Linked DNA regions of Homo sapiens. The protein of the gene in region 3 interacts with the protein of the main gene of each other region in a biochemical or structural test. Each region holds a gene or a part of one and is shown on either strand. Other genes may lie near its edges.

Region 1 (3,750 bases), on a different chromosome or scaffold from region 3:
CAGTGAAGCCTCACTATATTCATGTATACAGTACTTTTTAATGGGGCTTCAAAAAACAGCTCTACCACAGAACGGGAGAGTCTATCCCAATCTTGGGCTGGTATTTTATAGGCCAGACCTGCTGTAACTTTTGGTAAGCCTCTGTTCTGGTTATACTAAGGCTCAACTTTCACTGATAACTATTTACTCTAGTTCCAGGTCATGGTGACCTGTGAAAAATCTTTGGCCAGTTATGTGTGGAATTACCATTAAGCTTAAGTACTGCCATATAGTATTCTAATGCTTCTGCTTTATACAAAAAGTAAACTACAACGAAAGGTGTATTATCAATTTTGTTCTTTAAAATCTTGAGCCCCGGAGTTAATGTATGTGGACTCTGGTCCTTGCCAGTTCACTCTGTGCTTTTATGGGCCAACCTTGCCCATGTCAGGCAGTAGTGAGGACTTCAGGGACAACTTCCAAAGTAAATAGTTTTGTGTTAGGAGAATTCTGGGGGTTAGGAAGAAATTTTTGAAAGTATTTTTGGCTAATCGGCTTGTGCTTCCTGCTTCCAGGTGATCCCCCATTGCAACCTTCCAACCACCCCAATACCCCCCATATTCCATTCCATATGGTGAAGCAAAAGCCCTCAACAGCACTTCTAATCTGATTTCCAAGCACCCACTAACTAGGCGTCATCTCCGTTCTTTCTAATGGATGAACAAACAGGGTCAGGGAAGTATGTGACTGGACCAAAGTCACACAAAGCCAGGACGAGAACCCAGGTCTTCTGTTTCCTGGCTCACGTTCTTTTCACTGGGACCGCTTACTATATTTTAAAATTTTAGGGTAAGAAAGAACCTTGGGATAATCATTTAGTCCAATCCCTTCTCTTAAAGACCCTCAGGTGCAAAAAAGAAACTGACCTGTATAGAGTCAAACATCTAGTCACAAGGCCATCATCTGAGGGTTCCTGATGGCCAGAAAATAATATTCTCTTGGCAAAATGAAGATGAAAAGAAAACAAGCTACAAAATCACCAACAGTTAGGGCCTAACAGAGTTCCAAAGTTCATGTATGGCAAGAGTTAAATGAGAACTTCCAGGCTCAAGGAATGCTTCTACAAGAGAATCAGATCAGAGGCTGCATGCTGGCAGCTGGAATTTGGCCTGGAGACGTGGTGGTTCGCTTTGTCTGCAAGTGGTGGTTATACATGTGAAGTCAGCCAATGCTAGAAAAAAAATCGAGATATTTAACATAAAAAAAAAATCCAGGCTGGGCACGGTGGCTCACACTTGTAATCCCAGCACTTTGGGGGGCCGAGATAGGAGGATTGCTTGAGCTCAGGAGTATCAAGACCAGCCTGGGCAACATAGTGAGATGACATCTCTTAAAGGAAAAAAAAAAGATCCAGATTTCTGGCTTTTCTTGAAAAAAATCTAAAGGTCTGATATGCCTGTACCCACATCCCCAACCCCACCAATCAGCCAGAGGTGAGTAAAGGCTGCCTCTTGGGAGGTGGCACCTGTTCTCTGGCTCTCCACCATCTCCACTGCTCCTCCAGGTCTCCCTGACCCTGAGGCCATGAGTGCATCAAATACTTCTCTCCTCTCCTCTCCTCTCATTACATGGCCCTCCTCCCATTTAGAAAGTTTGTCTCCACTGAACTAGATGAGGCCAAGGGATTTTAAACTTTCAACTGTTTTGTCTAACCTTACTTGGTTTTATGTTATTTTTTATTTTTTTAAGGAACACAGACATTGTCACAATTCAACCACAGAGAAGACTTGTCCAGCTGAGGCTTTCAAATTCAATAATTATTTGGAGATATGCTACTAGAAACTTTCAGAGAGGACAAAGAAAAGGTATCATTACAGTGTAAGAAGGCTGGAGTGGATTAGCATTGCTCACAGTTGTAGAGAGAAATACTTGGCTGATATCAAAATACATCGTTGGATGGTAAAGTAGACTATGTTGTTGATATGAATGTGTCAACCTTCACTTCTCCCCCTAAACCCACACACTGAAGGGGTGAGTTTAAGTCTGGGCACAGGATGTCAAAAGTTCTCAGGCATGGAACAAGCCACAGAATGGATTAAAAAATACCCCAAGCGGAAGAAAGCCATACACTATTAGACATTCCATTTTTTTTTTTTTTTTTTTGACACAGAGTCTTGCTCTGTCACCCAGGCTGGAGTGCAGTGGCACAATCTCAGCTCACTGCAACCTCCACCTCCTGGGTTCAAGCGATTCTCCTGCCGCAGCCTCCTGAGTAGCTGGGATTACAGGTGCCTGCCACCACACCTGGCTATTTTTTTTTTTTTTTTTTTTAATGAGACTGAGTTTCACTCTTGTTGCCCAGGCTGGAATGCAATGACGTGATCTTGGCTCACTGCAACCTCTGCCTCCCGGGTTCAAGCAATTCTCCTGCCTCAGTCTCCTGAGTAGCTGATATTACAGGCATGTGCCACCATGCCCAGCTAACTTTTTTGTATTTTTAGTAGAAACGGGGTTTCTCCATGTTGGTCAGGCTGGTCTCAAACTCCTGACCTCAGGTGATCCACCCACCTCAGCCTCCCAAAGTGCTGGGATTACAGACGTGAGCCACTGCGCCTGGCCCTAATTTTTGTATTTTTAGTAGAGACAGGGTTTCACTATGTTGTCCAGGCTGGTCTCGAACTCCTGACCTCAGGTGATCTGCTCACCTCTGCCTCCCAAAGTGCTGGGATTACAGGCATGAGTCACCACACCCAAAGATCTGAGCTAATAATGCATCCGGTTCCCCATATCAAAGGTGCTGGCAACACTCTAGCCTTTAATTAATTACCCTAAACCTAAGTGGGATAGTTATTTGGCAATACATCCATTTTTTTGCCAACTGAAGCAGTCCAGAGCTGTGATGATACCCCACAAAATACTAGGTTTGTAGGTTTCCCCCACCCTCCCATCTTCCTACCCTACATGCCCTACAAAATTCCTGCCAATGAATTTCATAGTGAGTATGTATGTTGTCATTTTGGGATGGTCCCATAAGAGGCCCATCTGGTGAACTCATCCAACCAGACGGTTTTGTTACTGGTGTCAACCTTGAGTTATGATTCAGAATCTTGAGTATACACTCAGATTCGAAATCCCTACGTAGTAAGGTGTAGGACAAAACATCTGTGCCTTTGAGATGCAGGTGCTTGGACTGGTCCTCTTACTAGCTGTGTGATTTGACAAGTCACTTCACATTTAACCACTCTGTAGGCATGAGTTTCCTCATCTGAAAAAAAAAAAAGGCAAACTAGTAAAAGCTGACCCCTGCAAAGTAACTGGCAGATAGAGGGCATCCAATAACATTCCAGATAGCCTCCCTTCTTTTCATAGAATGCTAGAAGCTACAGGTCCTTAGAAGTCAAGCAGATTCATCTCTCATTTGTATAGATGAGGAAATCAAGGCCCTGGGAGGTGGTCTTTCAGGCAAACAGTGGCAGCTCTTGAGATGTGGGCTCTGGTACTTTATTCAACGTTGGTTTTTTTCACATGAGCCAGCCCATGAGAGATTCTGAGAGCAGGTGGGGACAGTAAAAAGGCAGTCCCATAATTTCTAGGAGCCTCAAACTGTAGGCCAAAGGGCTAGGTAAACAGATCTGCCTTGTTTTAAGTTTGATACAGGCCTTACGGCTCTCTGTTGTTTCTCATCCTCTACAACTAACACATCTTGGTTGGTCGCTGGGCCTATGTATACATTCAAGTTTGGTTTATCCAGACTAACTGGCTGAGCTGCCC
Region 2 (3,750 bases), on a different chromosome or scaffold from region 3:
AATCACATAGGCTGCAGGCCCCAGCCCGGTGGGGAGGACGGATGTTTGAACAGGTGGTCATAGGGGGTGTGCTGAGCTCTGGAAGAGAGGTGAGCCCTGGCAGAGGCCAAGGGAGTGCAGGGTCCCCAGGGAGCGGCTCCTGAGCTGGGTGTTGAAGGGTGAGTAGAAGTTGAGTGGAGGGATACGTTGGAGAAGTGATTCATAAAAAGGAAGGAGGCCGGGCGAGGTGGCTCACGCCTGTAATCCCAGCACTTTGTGAGGCCGAGGCAGGTGGATCATGAGGTCAGGAGATGGAGACCATCCTGGCTAGCACAGTGAAACCCCGTCTCTACCAAAAAAAATACAAAAAAATTAGCCGGGCATGACAGCGGGCACTTGCAGTCCCAGCTACTTAGGAGGCTGAGGCAGGAGAATAGGAGAATAGCGTGAACCCGGGAGGCGGAGCTGGCAGTGAGCCGAGATCGCACCACTGCACTCCAGCCTGGGCAACAGAGCGAGACTCCGTCTCAAAAAACAAAAAAAAGGAAGGAGTGTGGGGGACAGCGAGGGAGTGCCCTGCTGCCCTGGGATACCGCGGGGGTGGGAGTATGGGGTGGAGGCTTGCAGCTCGGAGTGTCCCCAGCAGTCCAAGGGCCCACAGGGCAGGACAGCCCTGGTGCTTCTTGGTGCTGGGCCATGTCACAGCCTTACATGGGCTTTGGGTGCATTTGCTCTGAGACTGCCAAGGAGAGGGTCAGAGCTCTTTCCTAGGTACAGAGAAGCAGGGAAGGGAGTATTGGGAGTCCGAGCAGGCTGGGATGGGCCCTGCCAGGAGTGGATACCCAGCTAGGGGAGGTGAACAGCAGGGAAATTGGTCATCTTTCCTTTTCCCTCCTTCTCTGCCTCTTCTGACCTGAGGCTCCTGTTGAGTGGGAGGGCAGGTGTGTTTCATGGCCTGAAGGTCAAGGCTTGGGTAGCCTTGCTTTTGACCTTCCTTCTGGAATCTTCAGAATCTGATCCTTCACGAGCCTATTGTTCTGTATTTCAGTTAATTATCTTCACCCCCAAATCCCTGTTGCGCCACCCCGAGGCCAGATCCAGCTTTGATGAGATGCTTCCAGGTGGGTGTGAGGGAGATGGGCATTTCCTTGGGGGAAGCTATGTTTGGGGCTTCTTTGCTGCTGCTCTTTTACAGCTCATGGGACTGACATTTGTGATTCTCACTGGCTCTTGCCAGATTTTTGGTTGTAAAGACCCGTGATACATGGCTGGGCACAGTGGCTCACGCCTGTAATCCCAGCACTTTGGGAGGCCGAGGCAGGCAGATCATCTGAGGTCAGGAGTTCGAGGGCAGATCACCTGAGGTCGGGAGTTCGAGACTAGCCTGACCAACATGGAGAAACGCCATCTCCACTAAAAATACAAAATTAGCCAGGCGTAGTGCCACATGTCTGTAATCCCAGCTACTCAGGAGGCTGAGGCAGGAGAATTGCTTGAACCCAGGAGGTGGACGTTGCAGTGAGCTGCTATCACGCCATTGCACTCCAGCCTGGGCAATAAGAGCAAAACTCCGGCACAAAAAAAAAAAAAAAAGTCCCATGATACCAGATGAGGGAGGTCACAGCTTACATTCACGTTGGTCAAATGACATGTCTTAACATGCAGCCCAGGAGCTGTTGCCTCTCACCTGCAAATGCCCCCAAGGACTCCACTAGAGGCAATTAAGTATGTCCAAGATTGAGGGTTAGTGCCGCTGCCTGCGGCCTCCTTCAGCAGGTGAGTGGCAGCTCACCACTGGCTCAGAGGCCCAGCCCCAAAGCAAGCCCTTCAGGACAGAGAAAAAAACACTGGACGGCAGGTCCTGCCAAGTCACATGCCAGCTGCACTTGTGTGAAGGGAGACCCATAACATTGAGATTTCTATAGGGACAGTGGAGTGCAGGATGTTGACACAGCCTTTACCACCCACCAGGGGTCACCAGGCCAGGAAGCCTGCATCCCACCAGTCACCAAACCCCCTTTAGTCTTCAATCAAGGTGAGCCCCTTGTTTTTTGGGGGTTTTTTCCCAATCTTTTTTTATTTTTAATTTTATTTATTTATTTATTTATTTATTTTTGAGACGGAGTCTCGCTCTATCGCTCAGGCTGGAGTGTGGTGGCACAATCTCGACTCACTGCAAGCTCCACCTCCCGGGTTCACGCCATTCTCCCACCTCAGCCTCCCAAGTAGCTGGGACTGCAGGCGCCCGCCACCACGCCTGGCTAATTTTGTTTTTGTATTTTTAGTAGAGACGGGGTTTCACCGTGTTAGCCAGGATGGTGTCAATCTCCTGACCTCATGATCCACCCATCTTGGCCTCCTAAAGTGCTGGGATTACAGGCATGAGCCACCATGCCCAGCCCCCAGTCTTTTTTTATTATGGTAAAATACACAACATAAAATTTACCATTTTGACCATTTTTAAGTATCCAGTTCAGTGTGTTACTGCCTCTATAAATTTGACTACTCTATGGAACTCATAAGTGAAATCATACAGTCTTTGTCCCTTGCGACTGGCTTGTTTCATTTAGTATAATGTCTGCGAGGTCCATCCATGTTGTGTAGCATGTGTCAGAATTTCTTTTTTTTTAAGACTGAATAGCCAGGCATGGTGGCTCATGCCTATAATCCCAGCACTTTGGGAGTTCGAGGCAGGTGGATCACTTGAGGTCACAAGTTTGAGACGAGCCTGGCCAACAGGGTGAAACCCCGTCTCTATTAAAAATACAAAAATTAGCAGGGTGTGGTGGTGCACGCCCTGCTACTCTGGAGGCTAAGGCAGGAGAATTGCTTGAACCCGGGAGGCAGAGGTTGCAGTGAGCTGAGATTGCACCACTGCACTACAGCCTGGGCAACAGAGTAGGACTCCATCTCAAAACAAAACAAAACAAAAAAGACTGAATAGGCTGGGCCCAGTGGCTTACACCTGTAATCTCAGCACTTTGGGAGGCTGAGGCAGGTCGATCACTTGAGGTCACGAATTTGAGACCAGCTTGACCAATATGATGAAACCCCATCTCTACGAAAAATACAAAAATTAGCTGGGCATGGTGGCGCGCACCCGTAATCCCAGCTACTCAGGATGCTGAGGCAGGAGAATTGCTTGAACCTGGGAGGCAGAGGTTGCAGTGAGCCAAGATTGCGCCACTGCATTCCAGCCTGGGTGACAGAGACTCCGTCTCAAAAAAAATAAATAAATAAACTAGCCGGGGGTGGTGGCGCATACCTGTAATCCCAGCTACTCAGGAGGCTGAGGCAGGAGAATCACTTGAACATGGGAGGCAGAGGTTGTGGTGAGCCAAGATCACGCCGTTGCACTCCAGCCTGGACAACAAGAGCGAAACTCCGTCTCAAAAAAAAAAAAAGACTGAATAATACTCCATTATATGTGTATGCCACATTTTGCTCATCCATTCATCTGTCGATGGACACTTGGGTTGCTTCCATGTTTCAGCTATTATGATTAGAGGAGCTGCTATGAACATTGGTGTACAAATATTTCTTTGAGTCCCTGCTTTCAGTTCTTTTGAATATGTACTCAGAAGTGGAATTGCTGGACCATATGGTAATTCTATTTTTAGTTTTTTGAGGAACTGCCAAACTTTCCACAGTGGCTGCATTTTACATCCCACCAACAGTATATGAGGATCCCACCATCTCTACATCCTCATCAGCACCTACTATTTTCTGGTTTTTTCATAGTAGCCATCTTAATGGGTGTGAGATGATATT
Region 3 (3,750 bases):
CAGGCTGGTTTCCAACTCCTAAGCTCAAGCGATCCTCCTTCCTCACCCTCCCAAAGCTCTGGGATTATAGGCACGAGCCATGGTGCCCAGCGTCTATCCCCACTGAATTCCACAGTACAGTACTCTGTATACAGTACGCACTCAAAACACGTTTGTCAAATTTCTCTTCCTGACAGTGCTGATACTTGAACACATTGAAATCTTGAAGAAAACAGGTAAGTCAACAATTAGCTCACTACAGAAATGGGCATACCTAGTGAATTAGTACCTTTGGTTAACATTCTAAGGTTATTTAAAAACACAACTTGTTTTCCATTTCACTGTCAGAGCTGGGTAAAATGAAAGACAAGCCCAGCCTATCTTTGCCTTTTCATCCACTCGATTCTGAATCACTTAGGAAAATATGTAAGTGACGGGGTCAAACAATCCTCCCATCTCAGCCCCCCAAGTAGCTGGGGCTACAGATGTGCACCACCACACCTGGCTAATTTTTGTATTTTTTGTAGAGGTGGGGTTTCGCCTTGTTACCCAGCTGGTCTTGAACTCCTGGACTCAAGCAATCCGCCTGCCTCGGCCTCCCAAAGTGCCAGGATTACAGGTGTGAGCCACTACACCTAGCCAAGGCTAAGGTTAAGGTCATGGAGGAGGCAGGCATAGTATTAGGAAAGCCAATTAGAGAAGAAGCCAGCGGCTCACTCTGTGAAAGTTAACAATAAACAGGCCAGGCGCGGTGGCTCACGCCTGTAATCCCAGCACTTTGGGAGGCCGAGAAGGGCAGATCACGAGGTCAGGAGATCGAGACCATCCTGGCTAACACGGTGAAACCCCGTCTCCACTAAAAAAATACAAAAAATTAGCCAGGCGTGGTGGGGGGCGCCTGTATTCCCAGCTACTCTGGAGGCTGAGGCAGGAGAATGGCGTGAACCCGGGAGGCGGAGCTTGCAGTGAGCCGAGATCATGCCACTGCACTCCAGCCTGGGAGACAGCGAGACTCCATCTCAAAAAACAAAAACAAAAACAAACAAACAAAAAACAATAAACAAATACCTCTTCCCTGACAAGTTAGTTTTAGAATCAGCACTAGATAAGGAGTGGGGCAAGTTCGTGTTCTCTAAGAAAAAGGGGCCTAGGGGATAAGAGGGACTAGAGACACTACCTCATGTCAATCTCATTAAAAGTTGTCAGCATTGCACATGTATTCTGGGCCTCCTTCAGACGCTGAGCAATGCGCTGCCGCATCCTGTTCATTTTCTCCTGAAAGTAAGAGTGGAACAAGCATTGACAATCTGATCTCTCTGGGTCAAGCATTCCCCGTGTAGTCAGAAAGAACACGGCTTGCCACGAGTAGATGGCCAAGGACTACAGTATCTAAGTACACGAGCTCCAGGCTTCCCTTTCCTGTGGTGGCCCTTTCTCCTCCAAGCAAAAACATGCAAACACAGGCCAAAACTACTCACTCAGATGTGCCTAAAGCTTGACCAAGAATGAAGGCTCAGAAACAGTGATTTAAAAACCAAAACCCATTTATAAAAGAATGTAGTGTAGTGTAGTCTAGCCAACATAAGAATCATAAGAAAAAGGGCACTTTCTGTTGATAAAGATTTGCATAAGAATAGCTATTTGTGGAACAGAACCTCATGAGCAACAAACTTTCGAGGCTATCATATTTTTAGGAAGTATTCTCAGGCAGAGGAACCACAATCCTGACCATACTTCCTTGAGGCTTTATGTCTGCACCTGACAGCTATTGCTACTGAGTATTATCCCTTAGCTACAGCTAAGTATCCCAGAAGTATAGGAATAGAGCTCACTAAACCACCTCTCTGAAGCGTGTGACATCGTGGGAGGACGGGGGTGAGTTACTAAGCTACCACCCCTACAAATATTTAACTTACCCAAGGCTTTCACTGGTAGCATAATATAGTAGGAAAACCACTGAACAAGTGTTCAGAAGACCTCAGGTTCTAGTCCTATCATTTGATGGTTATGTGACTATGAAGAAGTTATATCCTAAACTCCCTTTATCAAGGTTGAGGGAATGAGCTGCCAGGCATTCAAAGGTAGGCATCACCACACCCATACTCCACTAATCTCAACACTGCCCCCTGCCTCTTTCCTGAAAGTGGTCCTCAGAGGCTTACCCGATGTTCTGAACGCAGACCTTTGCCAGCTCCTGGCTCAGCTAGTGGTGGGGCAACAGTGGGTTTTACTGCAGACACTGAAAATGAAAAGAGGATAAAGCTGCATCAGACAAGGAAAGAAACATCTGCTGAGTTTGTGCCAGTGCTTTCATATGTACTGTTACTTAATCTTCAAGATATTCTGAGGTATATTAGTATCACTCCAACTTCACAGATGAACAATCTGTTCAGATAAATTAAGTGACTAGCCTAAAGACACACAGCTAGTAACAGAAAGCTGAGATGCAAAGCAGGCCTTTGGATACAAAGTCTAGAATTCTTTCTACAAAGCAGCCAACCTGGCCTGTTCAGAACCATCATCAGTCTAGAGTTTACCCTTTGAAGGAACATATTAGACGAGATGTTCTCCCACATGACATGTGGGAGTTGGAAGCCTACCAGGTTTGCCAGAAGGAGGCTGTGAGGGCGAGGGCACCGGTGGCATCTGAGTGGGTATGGGTGCTGCAGGGGGAGGAACTGCCGCTGCTGTAGGTTCTGCTTTTGGGGCTGCAGCAGCAGGAGCTTCAGCCGGCTTGGCCTTAGCAGGAGCAGCTGAAAAACAAGAAAAGTATATGCCACTGGCACTGTCTGAAATGAGAAGCAACCAAGCAAAATTTAGTGGCAAAAACTCTAGCTCCAATCAAGTAACGAATGTCTACTGGGTATCAGCAATATGCAAAGCACTATGAGACACACACACAATGACATAAGGCACTATTCTCTAGTCCTCAGGGTCCCTAAATGTCCATCAGATAACTGGCTCAACTTAGCTCCCTTCCCAATTTCACAGGTTTCCACTGAATAAATTCAGCAAGTACTTTCAAAGCACCTATCAAGCCCAAGAAAATGTAAACTTCCAAGGAAAAAAAAAAACACCTAGGCAATTTAAAATATTGAAATGCATACATAAACATATTTCTAATTACTGATACTCTTCATCCTCTATTTTAACATTATATATGCAAGAATACTATTAAAAAATAGGCTGGGTGCAGTTGCTCACGCCTGTAATCCCAGGATTACAGGCCAAGGGATTACTCCCCTTGGGAGGCCAAGGCAGGCGGATCACAAGGTCAACAGATCAAAACCATCCTGGCCAACATGGTGAAAGCCCGTCCCTACCAAAAATACAAAAATTAGCTGGGCGTGGTGGCATGTGCCCATAGTCCCAGCTACTCGGCAGGCTGAGGCAGGAGAATCACTTGAACTCCGGAGGCGGAGGTTGTAGTGAATCAAGATCAGGCCACTGCACTCCAGCCTGGCGACAGAGTGAAACTCCATCTCAAAAAATAAAATAGTCATCGAGGGTTGACTTAGGCTTAAGAAAGCACTTCATCCAGGATGACTCATAAATCACTGAAGTGGCCAAGTAATAATCTCACAACTTTAAATGAAATGTTTGTTTCTGTTTTTCACCCATCTGGACATTATATCCAGGGTTAGTGCTAAGACAAACTTCTGCAACAGGAGGACTACCTTATTTCCCAGCCTTCTACCATACATGTTTTCTACTCTGAGCTTCTGGTCTTGCCTGACTAACCTCAATCATGCGGTCTATCTGCCTTATTAG

What was found.
Region 1: the proteins of DLST (region 3) and SIAH2 form a complex in vitro, tested with the Homo sapiens proteins (2 studies listed by BioGRID, with this or other methods).
Region 2: the proteins of DLST (region 3) and OGDH form a complex in vitro, tested with the Homo sapiens proteins (one study listed by BioGRID).

Annotation. Positions count from the first base shown.
Region 1 is NC_000003.12:150,756,447-150,760,196, forward strand, and holds part of SIAH2 (E3 ubiquitin-protein ligase SIAH2), read right to left. Parts: intron 1-3,750. UniProt on the Homo sapiens protein: E3 ubiquitin-protein ligase that mediates ubiquitination and subsequent proteasomal degradation of target proteins.
Region 2 is NC_000007.14:44,700,516-44,704,265, forward strand, and holds part of OGDH (2-oxoglutarate dehydrogenase complex component E1 isoform 1 precursor), read left to right. Parts: intron 1-1,027; coding exon 1,028-1,100; intron 1,101-3,750. UniProt on the Homo sapiens protein: 2-oxoglutarate dehydrogenase (E1o) component of the 2-oxoglutarate dehydrogenase complex (OGDHC). Participates in the first step, rate limiting for the overall conversion of 2-oxoglutarate to succinyl-CoA and CO(2) catalyzed by the whole OGDHC.
Region 3 is NC_000014.9:74,891,816-74,895,565, reverse strand, and holds part of DLST (dihydrolipoyllysine-residue succinyltransferase component of 2-oxoglutarate dehydrogenase complex, mitochondrial isoform 1 precursor), read right to left. Parts: exon of another isoform or gene 3,508-3,750; intron 2,733-3,507; coding exon 2,580-2,732; intron 2,219-2,579; coding exon 2,142-2,218; intron 1,255-2,141; coding exon 1,157-1,254; intron 1-1,156. UniProt on the Homo sapiens protein: Dihydrolipoamide succinyltransferase (E2) component of the 2-oxoglutarate dehydrogenase complex. The 2-oxoglutarate dehydrogenase complex catalyzes the overall conversion of 2-oxoglutarate to succinyl-CoA and CO(2).